2 separate regions of the Homo sapiens genome follow, and region 1 is linked to region 2. Evidence: fine-mapped expression QTL. A gene starts in region 2. The other region holds a variant in brackets. All regions are shown on one strand. Distances are from middle to middle. Region 1 overlaps SGCD (sarcoglycan delta). Region 2 holds the start of SGCD (sarcoglycan delta).

What was found. PIP is the estimated chance that this variant, and not a neighbour inherited with it, causes the effect.
Region 1: its variant is the best candidate, but not a certain one, in a credible set for the expression of SGCD in thyroid (GTEx, PIP 0.65).

The regions. Positions count from the first base shown.
Region 1 is chr5:156,456,871-156,461,870 of GRCh38, reverse strand. The region is part of intron 3 of SGCD (sarcoglycan delta); the gene reads right to left. Among named protein-coding and RNA genes, the nearest start is that of SGCD, 130 kb to the right of the region's middle. The variant T/C (reference allele first, on the strand shown) is at 2,613.
Region 2 is chr5:156,324,239-156,329,739 of GRCh38, reverse strand. It overlaps SGCD (sarcoglycan delta), which reads right to left and starts at 2,576. Exons shown (of 9, transcript NM_000337.6): 1 at 2,508-2,576; 2 at 161-206. The coding sequence starts at 163. The region is part of intron 2 of LOC124901120 (a long non-coding RNA gene); the gene reads left to right.

The DNA of each region.
Region 1 (5,000 bases), 130 kb before region 2:
TGCAGAATTTATTTTCCAGGAAGGAAGGAAAGAAACCTGGTCAGTCACAAAGGATATTTTCAGAGGAAGAAAGTCAAATGAGTAAGTGTGAGATTTCTACTTCATATCTCCCTCCTAAGTAGAACCTAAAGGCTTATTGCTCCTTGAGTAAATATGAGTGACTTGGGATTTAATTATGTGAAGTAAAATTATCAACATTAACTCCAGAGTAGAGTCCTTATCTTTCCTGATAAGTAAAAAGGGAAAGGACCCGAGAAAAAAAGAGTGAAAATCCATGGCAAAAATGAATTTATTAACAATATTTTATATATGAAAACTAATTTATAGCCTGAAAGGTTTTTCCCCCTAAGAAAATTATATTTCATTATAGCTATCTTTAATACAAAATTAAAATTGTTTCATTTTATCCGCTTGTTTGTCACATTAAATTTACTCTCATTTCATAGTAATAAAGTTCTCCTCATTTTCTTTCTTCCAGAATTTCTGGTAATGTTATCCTGTTACAGAAACTCCTTTGAGTATATGATGGGTTTTTTGACATTTGTTAACTCAACAGGAAAGACCAAGTACATCAAATAGCCTAATTATATATCTTTTATAAACTATTAAAAAACAATATGCTTTTATAATAAGAATGCAATACACATCTTATACCACATATTCTGACATTTTTACATGCTTTTTAGAATTGACATTACAAAGGGGAAGAGTTGCTGTAAGAAATGAAAAGTCTGGACATAGGCACAGACTCACATTGAAAGGTACTCCTGGTTTAAGAAAAGCCTAGCAAAAGAAAACGGTTTTGTGTGAGCAGCTTCTAAAGTATGCCCTGGAACCACTTTCTCTATGAGCTATTCTGGAAATAAAAATCTCTACTATATCTGTCTATATTTACACACATATTTAATTAATTTCATTATTTCTGTGGCCAAATCATTTTGGGAAATGTTGTGTATTCTATTAACTTCTTGAAGAATGACAAGGCATAGCCACCTGTTCAAGGTTCCAAGAAGCCTGCAGTAAAATGTGATCTGTTTAACTTCACCTCAGTGTTTTGAAAACTTATTTGGTTAGGGAACTCCTTTTTGTGAACCATCTTTTAACATCCTGTAGATGCTGTTATACTGTATCTCTTAATTTAAGACTCTGGGGTTGTGGTATACTAGAGTGAGTCACCCCTTAACTATCTCAGGCTATGAAATAAATGAGCTGAGGGTAACAGGCCCCAGATTATCATTCATTCATTCAGTCAGTCAGTCAGTCACTAACTCATTCATACAACAACATTGATAACCAGACACAATATTTAAGACTGCTCATGCTGGATCCATCACTGTCTGGTCTCTCTGTCTGTGGCATGCCTAACTGGGACCTTTCCCATTCTTCAAAGTTCTGGTCAAATCCCATTTCCTTTATGAATTCTATTGCAGTGCCTATTATCCAGTGGATCTTTCCCATCTTTGAACTCCAAAAGCATTAGCATATGCACAATTATGATAATGATTTCCAGATCTTGATTTCATGTCTAAAATTTTAAACCTTTAAAAGGCAGGGCTATATTTTATTTATTTCAGACTCAAAGACTTAATGTGGTTTTGGTCAAATAAATCATTGTTCAGTTGATATAAGCAGCAACACTGTCCTCTCTGGCTTTATAAATTACATCATCCTAGACTGCCCACAGTTGAGGGTAGTTGTCCCCCTCCTTGAAATGCAGCAATCAATACTACATTTTCTAGTCTCTATTTATAAACAGGAAATTAACTGCCTTCCATCATTGTTCTAATTGACCTTCAGCTCAGGTTTGAAAGGAAAGACCTCAGCCAAACAGAAGCTTTATTGATGGTATCAATCCATTAGTGATGCCTTTGCTTTCATTATAGCGGTGCCATATGCAATAAAGACACATATTTGAATAGTCTGGGTGGAAAGGAGGAGGGGTTATCTAAAGAAGATTTCCCTGTAAATGAGCATGAAATCTTTCAGCCAATACTTACCTCTTCCTTGTTCAAACCCCCAGGGAACATAAAAAAGAAATCCTAGCTAATCTGTAGAAGGAAACAGGAGGTAAATGCATGCTGTCCAGCTGAACCTATGACTTTACACATCAGTTTAGTTAAACCTTGAAAATCGCCTCACTGAAAACAGTTAAGTCAAGATGCTAATTGGCCTTTTCTAATTTTCAATGCAATGATGGTATGTTAAATGGATTAGATACTCTTCTTTAAATCATCAAGCACTTATCAAAGCGCTAATAAATATTTACTACAATTCTTTAAAACATGAGAGAAGACATGGGAAGCAAAGAAAGGGCTCTTCATTTCTTCCTGTGTAAGATGTGGCCACTGAGCTATTTCTGAGTCCCAGAAAAACAAAACAATTCCTCCAAGACACAGGCAAAATGGGAAATAGTTGCCAAACCGTTGACTCTCATTTTCTTAAATTAAGAGACTGTTTTTAACAAATCATTCAAGTGATTCTCATGCACACAGAAGTTTGAAAAGTCCTGTTTTAAGGATTTAATGACTGGGATAGTAAGAGAGACTATTAACTCTCCACTTAGACTACAAGCTTTCTTCTAGAACATTGAACATTGAGTGCAGTGAACCTGT[T/C]TATCTAATGTCCATCTGTCTCAGCACTCAGAATAGTGTAAGCCACATAGTATACACACAATTATGTACTTATAAAGTGGAGGTTGGGAACAAAGGGAGAAGACAAAGACAGGAGGGAAAGAGAAAGGGCAAAAAAGTACTTTATTCAGGGTGCTTGGACTCAGGTGATTTTTTTTCCCTTCACTTTGGCATCTAATCAAGAGATCCTGCACTCTTAGATGGTTTCTGTTGAATGAAAAATAAGATAATTACAATATTCTTTGAAAGGGCTTTATTTTATTCATGATTCAGGTTAAATTCCTTTAAAAAAGAAACCTATCTTTAGCCTCTAAAAAAATCCCTGTTAAAATTGGCATCTTTCAAAGAGTTTCAAGTTTTGAGGGAAAAGAAGAAATTAAAATCCACTGAAGACTCACCATGTTCTAGTCACTTGTTTAAACACTTAACAAAGGCTCTCCCATGTGATTCTCATCATGCTCTTGAAATTCAAGCATCATAGTCCCTGTATTTCAGGTGGATGATCGTGATGTTGGTGATGATGATCATGAGTGAGCTCTTAACAAGGTAACTTGTGTTTATCCTTAACATAGACTATCTCATTTAATTCTTACAATATCTGCATGAATATTGTATTTTTTTCATTTTTACAAATAAAAATCTGAGGTTTAGAGATGTTAATCAAGGTGCTGAATTTTGACATATGCGGTTTGAGGGAAAGAATCACTGGTGTGTCTATTCTGGTTTGTTGTAGGTTAACGAAGCCCTTGTCATTTGCTGACTGTGTTGGGGATGAGCTGCCATGGGGATGGGAATCAGGGTTTGACCCTCAGATTGGTGTCTACTACATCGATCACATCAACAGTAAGTTTTCCTTTTTGGTAAAAGCAAACATATCAGAAAAGTAATCCCCCAAAACCTACAGTCACGCAAAAGAATAAACATGTTACAAAGTGAATTTCCAAAACCCCATTTTCTTAGTGACTAATATTTAACTGAAATGCCTGTCTTGGTATTTGGGGCATGTACATAGAGTTGTCCTTATGGGGACGGAGAGGGAGAAAGTGTGTCTGGCCTGTGTGCCTGCCTGCCTGCCTGCTGGGGAATGAGGATTCTCCTTCAGCACAGGTCTGGGAACCTGTGGGGATCAGAGCTGCTGGGCTCCTCTTTCCATGGCCACTGCACCTTCTGACAGGCTCTTCCTTTCCTTGTGTTTGCCACAGAAAGACTTGGGCGTTGGCACAGTGTGGTTTGTAGGCTGGGACTGGGGAGGGGTTGGCCCACATCAGTGGCTCTGGAAGACATAGCATAGCTGGGAAAGGTCCTAAACCGCCCAAAGTCACTCAGCTAGGTTATAGAAAGGCCTGGACTGGACTCCAGGTCTCTTGGACACCATCACTTGCATACACATATCCCAAATAAGAAAACAAGTTAGAGGAGTTAAATAGTCTCAGAATTCCCAAGCTCTCAAACAGGGACTAGAACACATGTCTCCCAACCAACTGTGAAGTAGGGCATGAGAGACATTTACATTTTTCTGTCCTTACTATGAGCGGCATAGGGAAAGGATTCAGCTTTCATATCTTCTCAGATTACTGTGTTTGCCCCAGGGTCAGATATTACTGGGCAGGGGTCTTGAAGCAAAGGCAGAAATAACAGTGGAGAGAATTTTATTTGCTTCTATGTTTTCCTGAATGTGAGCCAAAACAATAGTATAAATTTGGTGCTTCACTAAATATCCCCAAATATCTAAAGCCACCATTCAGGGATGGAATATTTGATACATTTTTGAATGGATGTGTCAAATACTTACTGTTTTGTGCTTTTTATGGAAATGACTCTGGTTTAAGCATTTAACTTTTGGAAGTTGTAAAGGTTATAAAAGAAATTTAAATTCCTGTGAACAACTACTACATATTCAATCAGCGAATGTCAAGTTGCCCTTTTATATATGTCAGAAATTATTTTAGAGGATCAAAGGCATAGCAAGAGTGACCAACTTGAAGAATGAAAGCAAGTTTTTAAAAAATGCTATTTTAGAAATATTTGTATTTTTAAAGAAAATAAGGTGTCTCTGCTGAAACCCTTACTATTTTGAAGAAATACAGCTTCTGAATGGAGTACAATAAACAAAGATTTTCACACATGGGAAAGCAAATAAGAAAGTTAGCATAAAAATGTGGTTTTGGTTTCTGTTCTAGTAAAATGTAAATAACTGAAGAATGCTACAACTTCAGAAACTAAAAATATTTCCTTAGGCAAATGCTCCAATCAAGCCATGTTCACTGAGACCAAGTTACTTTTGGTTTAATGTGATTTTTTTACTACAATACAGAAAAATAAAATTTTGTCTATATTCTAACCCACAAACCATTTATAATTACTAAATGT
Region 2 (5,501 bases):
GGCCTGCAGATTTTTTAAAATAAAAAAGTAAAATTAAAGAAATGTCTTCATCAGGATAAGGCATATATAACACTTTGTTCTCTTTTTCAAAAGTTTATGTTAATAATAAAATGACCATGAGCAGGGCCTTGAACAAGCTTCGCTCCCGGGAATTACTCACCATCTCCACCTGGTCCCTTCACTCAACACTCCCGGCAGTAATGTCTCTGCAAGGAACAAATATGGGTTAAAAATAAGGTCTGAAGAGCCTGCCCCCTCCTTGCCTAGGAAATCTGAACCCTCAGGCAATGCCATTCTTACAAAATGTGCTTTCTGATTACTTCCAGAAGGCAGGGCAGGCTGACCATGCAGTCTCCTGTGGTGAAGTGGCTAAAACAATTCTCTTCACCAAGGCCACTGAGTATCTGCACACCTCCAGTCCAACAAATCAGTGCCTGGTGGCTTTGGCTATTTCTAATACATGTGTTTCATTCCTGTGCCAAGGGCTCCTCCCTCCACCCTCACTGCCCAGTTTGTGTTGTGGCCATTCCTCTCCCTTCACTGCCTCCACCTCTGTCCTGGATTTCTTCCTCTGTATCCTTCCCCCTTCCGCTGCTTACTTTTTCTCTTCAGATGTCAAGAGAGCTTGACTTCTCCCTACTTTACTTCTAAAAAAGAGAGAAACTATAGAGTTTCTACCAAGTTTCAAGCACTGCTCTTTATAATCCTGCAACCTGGAGTTGCTATTTCACGCCTCTTCTGCTCAATGCTTGACGCACGCTAAATATAGAGGAGTATGACACCCGAGCTCATGGAAGGCTCCCTTTTTCATTGGCAGTGGGCTTGACTACGGTTCATGCCAGTTCCTAATCTGTCTTGGCATTTTTCTCACTCATTAGGCACTTTAGAGAAAAAAATAAGGTCACAGTCCATCCTGACTTCTAACTACACCCCCTTCCTTTCCTCAAGCCCTGCAGTCCCCAAACCCTCCCCACACCACCCCAACACGAAGATGAAACTAATAAAGAAAATGTTCATGAACCATCTCTTAAAGATATCCTGCTGCCAGTCCTGTCCCAGGTCCCTCCTCCAAGTACAACACTTGGAAGAAAAAAGAAAATCGCTGGCTGAAAATCCTGACCTTCTACCAACAGGACAGAATGTGTGCCTTCTCATTCTAGGTCTTATGCAGAGGAAGCAATGAGAAATGCTGGCTCTCCACTTTTCTTTCAGCATTAACTTCAGGCTCTTCTATTAGCTACTTGTTTAAAGATTGTAGGACACAAGTAAATGCACACCTGTTGTCACAGAGATCCACCCTAAGAGGTCTAGTCACTCTTCAGCTACTCAAGAAGTATCCAAGATTCCATTCATTCATCCATCTCCCCAACCAGACTTTTGGCCAAGCCCCGTTCGGAAAAAACCAATGTTGTCACAGATTGCTGTGCTAGTAATTGTAAAGCAGTTGTAAGGTTTAGCTCGGCTTTGGGCTGAACCAGTCTCTCAAATGCAATGACATTGTACTGTGTGTTTTCTAAATGCTGTACATAAAACAAGGTATAGCTTTCCTATGAGAGGAAAAAATCTATACTGCAATAGAGTTGATAAAGAAGAACCAAAACTGAAGAGGAACACTAAGATCCCTGTTGTGCTGAAAATTTTTAAAACTTTGATTTTTATAAAAAGCTCTTTTGCAGTAAGGTGTAAAATAAAACCAAGAGATCAATGAAATAAAATTCACACCATCATGTCTCTGTCCTTTAAGAAGAATTTTGAGTAAACTGCCATTTTCTGTTACTTTTTTATTATCTATGTTTCCTAAAATACAGAAGTGTTTTTTGAGAGTAAAACTGCAAATTACTTCAAGTGAGAAAATTGGAAATGATTATAGAAACAGAATTACAAATGTTGATCCAGCATAATTCTAGGCAAATATATCACTGACAGTCAAATCCCAGATAATGACAGTCAAACTCCTATATAAAAGATTTTAGAAACCCATACACACATATCTGTTTCGACACTCTGAAAGTGTCATCCAACGTAGAAACTTCAAACTCTGATTCCCTCCTAAAATGAGAGCCATTTTCTACTATTAAAAAACAACAACAACAAAAAACTCCCCATTAAAACTCTTGCGAAGTGAAGCAAAACACACAGACAGTTTCATCTGAAATTATCTTCCTTGCCAGTGAACGGCCCTTCCACGCAGAAAGGAAAAGTTACAGATGGTTGGAGCAGGGTGACAACATAAGGAATTCACATACTCCTCTTTACACAATAACGTTGCCAGCTAAATCCTAACTTTCAAAAGAAGTCTCTCTGCCCTGCTGAAAATCAGACCTTAAAGGGGGAAAAGCACAGATTGGAGCCCCATGCCAACTGTTTACATGACGGAGTTCTAACTTGCTAATTCACACACACACACATGCACACACTAAAAACTCGGAGTGCCTGCAAATACAGCAGGCAGATAGCTTAGAAAGTGAACAGACGCGTGCAAACGCAAGAACTGAACAGTACCCTACCTCTCTTGTCCGTTTCACAAACCGGCCGATGAAAACCGCCCGCGATCCCAGGGCGTGCTGAGCAGCTCTGAAGGAGGTGGCCACTCGGCCCGCTGAGTGTGTGCAGGCCCAGCCTGCGCTCAGAAGCTGCCCCAGTCAGATTTTCCAACTGCAGAACTGCAGCCAAGTCCCTGCCCATGCCTGAAGAATTTCCTGAACAGCATTCCCGTTCTTTTTCTGACTGCTTTGAAACCGTACTCCGTACTTCAATATGGCTTTGTCAGACCGACTCACAGCTACTGGGCTGTCTCCAGCTATCAATGGGAAACACATGTGTCAAGCACAGGCCGACTCCCCTGCAACAGCGCTCATGGTGTCTGCCGGGCTCATACTCACAACCAGAAAGAAAACTGCTTCTACAACCAATTCTGATTTTTCAGCCATTCTCCACACAGCCTCTGCTCTGTAGTGCTAGATGCTGGAGATAAGTCCTCTCTTTCTTCTGCTCAACACTGCTCCTTTTTCACTTGCTCCTTACACTTGAGTCCCCAGCTGACCCCTGTCAGCCCCCTGAGCTCTTGCCAGTCCTGATAACAAGCTTATTACAGCTGAGAGATGTAAATTCTAATTTGATCTCCCTACCTGCCGCTTCCTAAATCTTTGCTCAAAATTTCAATTGCTTGAGGGGGAGCAATATTTTTAGCATTTCCACACTGGTACAGTTCTTCGGAGCTGTCCCCTCAACCTGATATGTACATTTTTTGCTGCAGCAACTAAAAATAATGCAATTATTTTTCAGGCACTTTTGTTGCTCTCTGTTCTGCAACAGTGCTGGTCCAAAAATGTAACATTTTATAGGCTGTTGGAATGTGTGTTATGGTTATGGAAAATAGAAAAGAGAAAAGAATGTACTTTGAATCAGAATGCGTCCTAATTCTGTGCACCTGTGATTATTTCTGGATGACACTCCCTCAAGATGCCCTGTGTACATTCTGCTGGATTTGATGCTCTACCTTTGACATTTTCCCTTTCCATGCAACAAGAGGAAACCTCAAAACAGGAGGACACCCCTCTTCTCCCACACTGAAAAACCCCCATATCTAAAGAGCCAGAGCAAAGTTGTCAAGGTAACATTGTAGAAAAGAGGTGATTTAAAGAGAGAGGAGCATTTGTTTTGAACTGTTTCTTTTTTCTGTTTTTGGTATTAACATTTTACTTCCAAAAATCACACCCCATTGGCAACTTATTCTAAAGAACTGGCTTGCCAGATTTTAAGTGTTGTATGTTCTTGAGGGGATGTTGTAAGTAATAGGATTCGGTGGGGTCGTGAGTTTAGCATCAAATTACACTGGGCACTTTGAGCAGGATTAGATTTTCGCCTTGGGAAGCAGTGGGGTGGGAGGCGGTGTGGGGAGGTGTGTGTGCACATCTAAGGTCAAGATGCAATTACAGAATCAGATCTTTGGAGTTGGAGACACCCCAGAGATCATCCAATCCAAATTGTTTCCACCCTTCATTTTACAGAGGGAAGTAGAGGCCCAGACAAATGAGATGACTTGTCCAGGGTTTTAAAGACAGTTAATACCAGAGCTGAAGCTAGAAATGGGATTGGTGCTCTCTTTTTCTATCTGCTTTCTCTACTGCAGCATAATTTGGGAAGGTGATATCATCTAGCCTTCTAATCAGATAGCCTGGGTCTAATCTTAGCTCTGCATCTTACTGACTATAAACCCTGGTCAGCTTGCTTAACCTCTCTCGATCTGTTTCCTCATCTGTGAAATGGGAACCATAATAGAATCTACTGGTAGAATTGTTAAGGATTCAGTGAGATAATCTGTGTAAAGTGTTTATGACTGCCTATAAATACATTTCAGTTTACTTTTTTTTTTAATGGAGCAAAATGCAAACCTTTTCTCTAACCTAAAAGCCAAATTGTACTCTCCCATCTAGTGTGAGTTCTAGAATAAAGTATTTGAGTGGCTAGTTTTCTGCTGCTTTAACTTTATGTAATAGGGGCCTGTCACCTTAAACTTGGAGAACTGTCCTGAAGCCTTATTGGAACATTAAGCCAGCTATACCGCTACTTTCCATTTATTCCCTAAATATAACACTGAAGTCTTTCCTTGAGATTAACTCACAGAAAAGAAAAACAGTGAGATCAAATCTGCAGTCAGTTACATGAGGCTGAACAAAGTGTCATTCCAGAGAACTGGGCTTTATACCTTAAGAGCTCAAAATTATCATTCTATAAATAGAAGACTATTAACAATTACAATGTTCATGTTTGGAAATGGCAACGTCCTAAATTAACAATAATAGCAAAATAAAATCCCACAAGTTGAGGAAGAAATCTTTCAGAGAAAATAGCTGCTGCAAATTCTAAAGAATCAGACTTCTACGTGGGGTTCCACAGTCTTTGAGAGCCAGTGGTAGCAAATTGCTAATGAACCGCTTATTGTTTATTATTCACGTTTTATGCCCTGCTTCTTTTCAGGGAAAAAAAAAAAGAAGTTTTAAATAGTTGAAGAAGTTAATCTTGAATGTTCTGGTAATCAATTTAAAAAAAACTCAAGCTGATACTCAGCCCTAATCAAACAATGCTGATATGATTCACGAGACCCTGCCCTCATGTCTCCCCAAAGACTTGTTATGTGGCTCATTTCAATGTGGGCATCTGGAGAGATCTCAGTTTGAGACCCAGCTTTATAACTGCTAGCTAGAAAATCCTGAAAACATACTTAATTCTTCTAATGTTAAGAAATGTTATGCAAAACTTGAAAAATATAGCCAAAAGGTAGTCTTTTTTTTTTCAATATCATATGCGGGAATTGTTTCACAGGCCCTCTCAAGAAGTATTTAAGGGGAATGTCATTTGTTGAAGATAGTTTGCTATTGAAAAACATTTCCAGATTTATTACAGGTACATGTTAACTTGGAGACTTTTATCTGATAAAGATGCAAATAATTTCTTTCCAGTAGAGAAAATAACCTCAAATGTGATGATTTGTTGCCCTC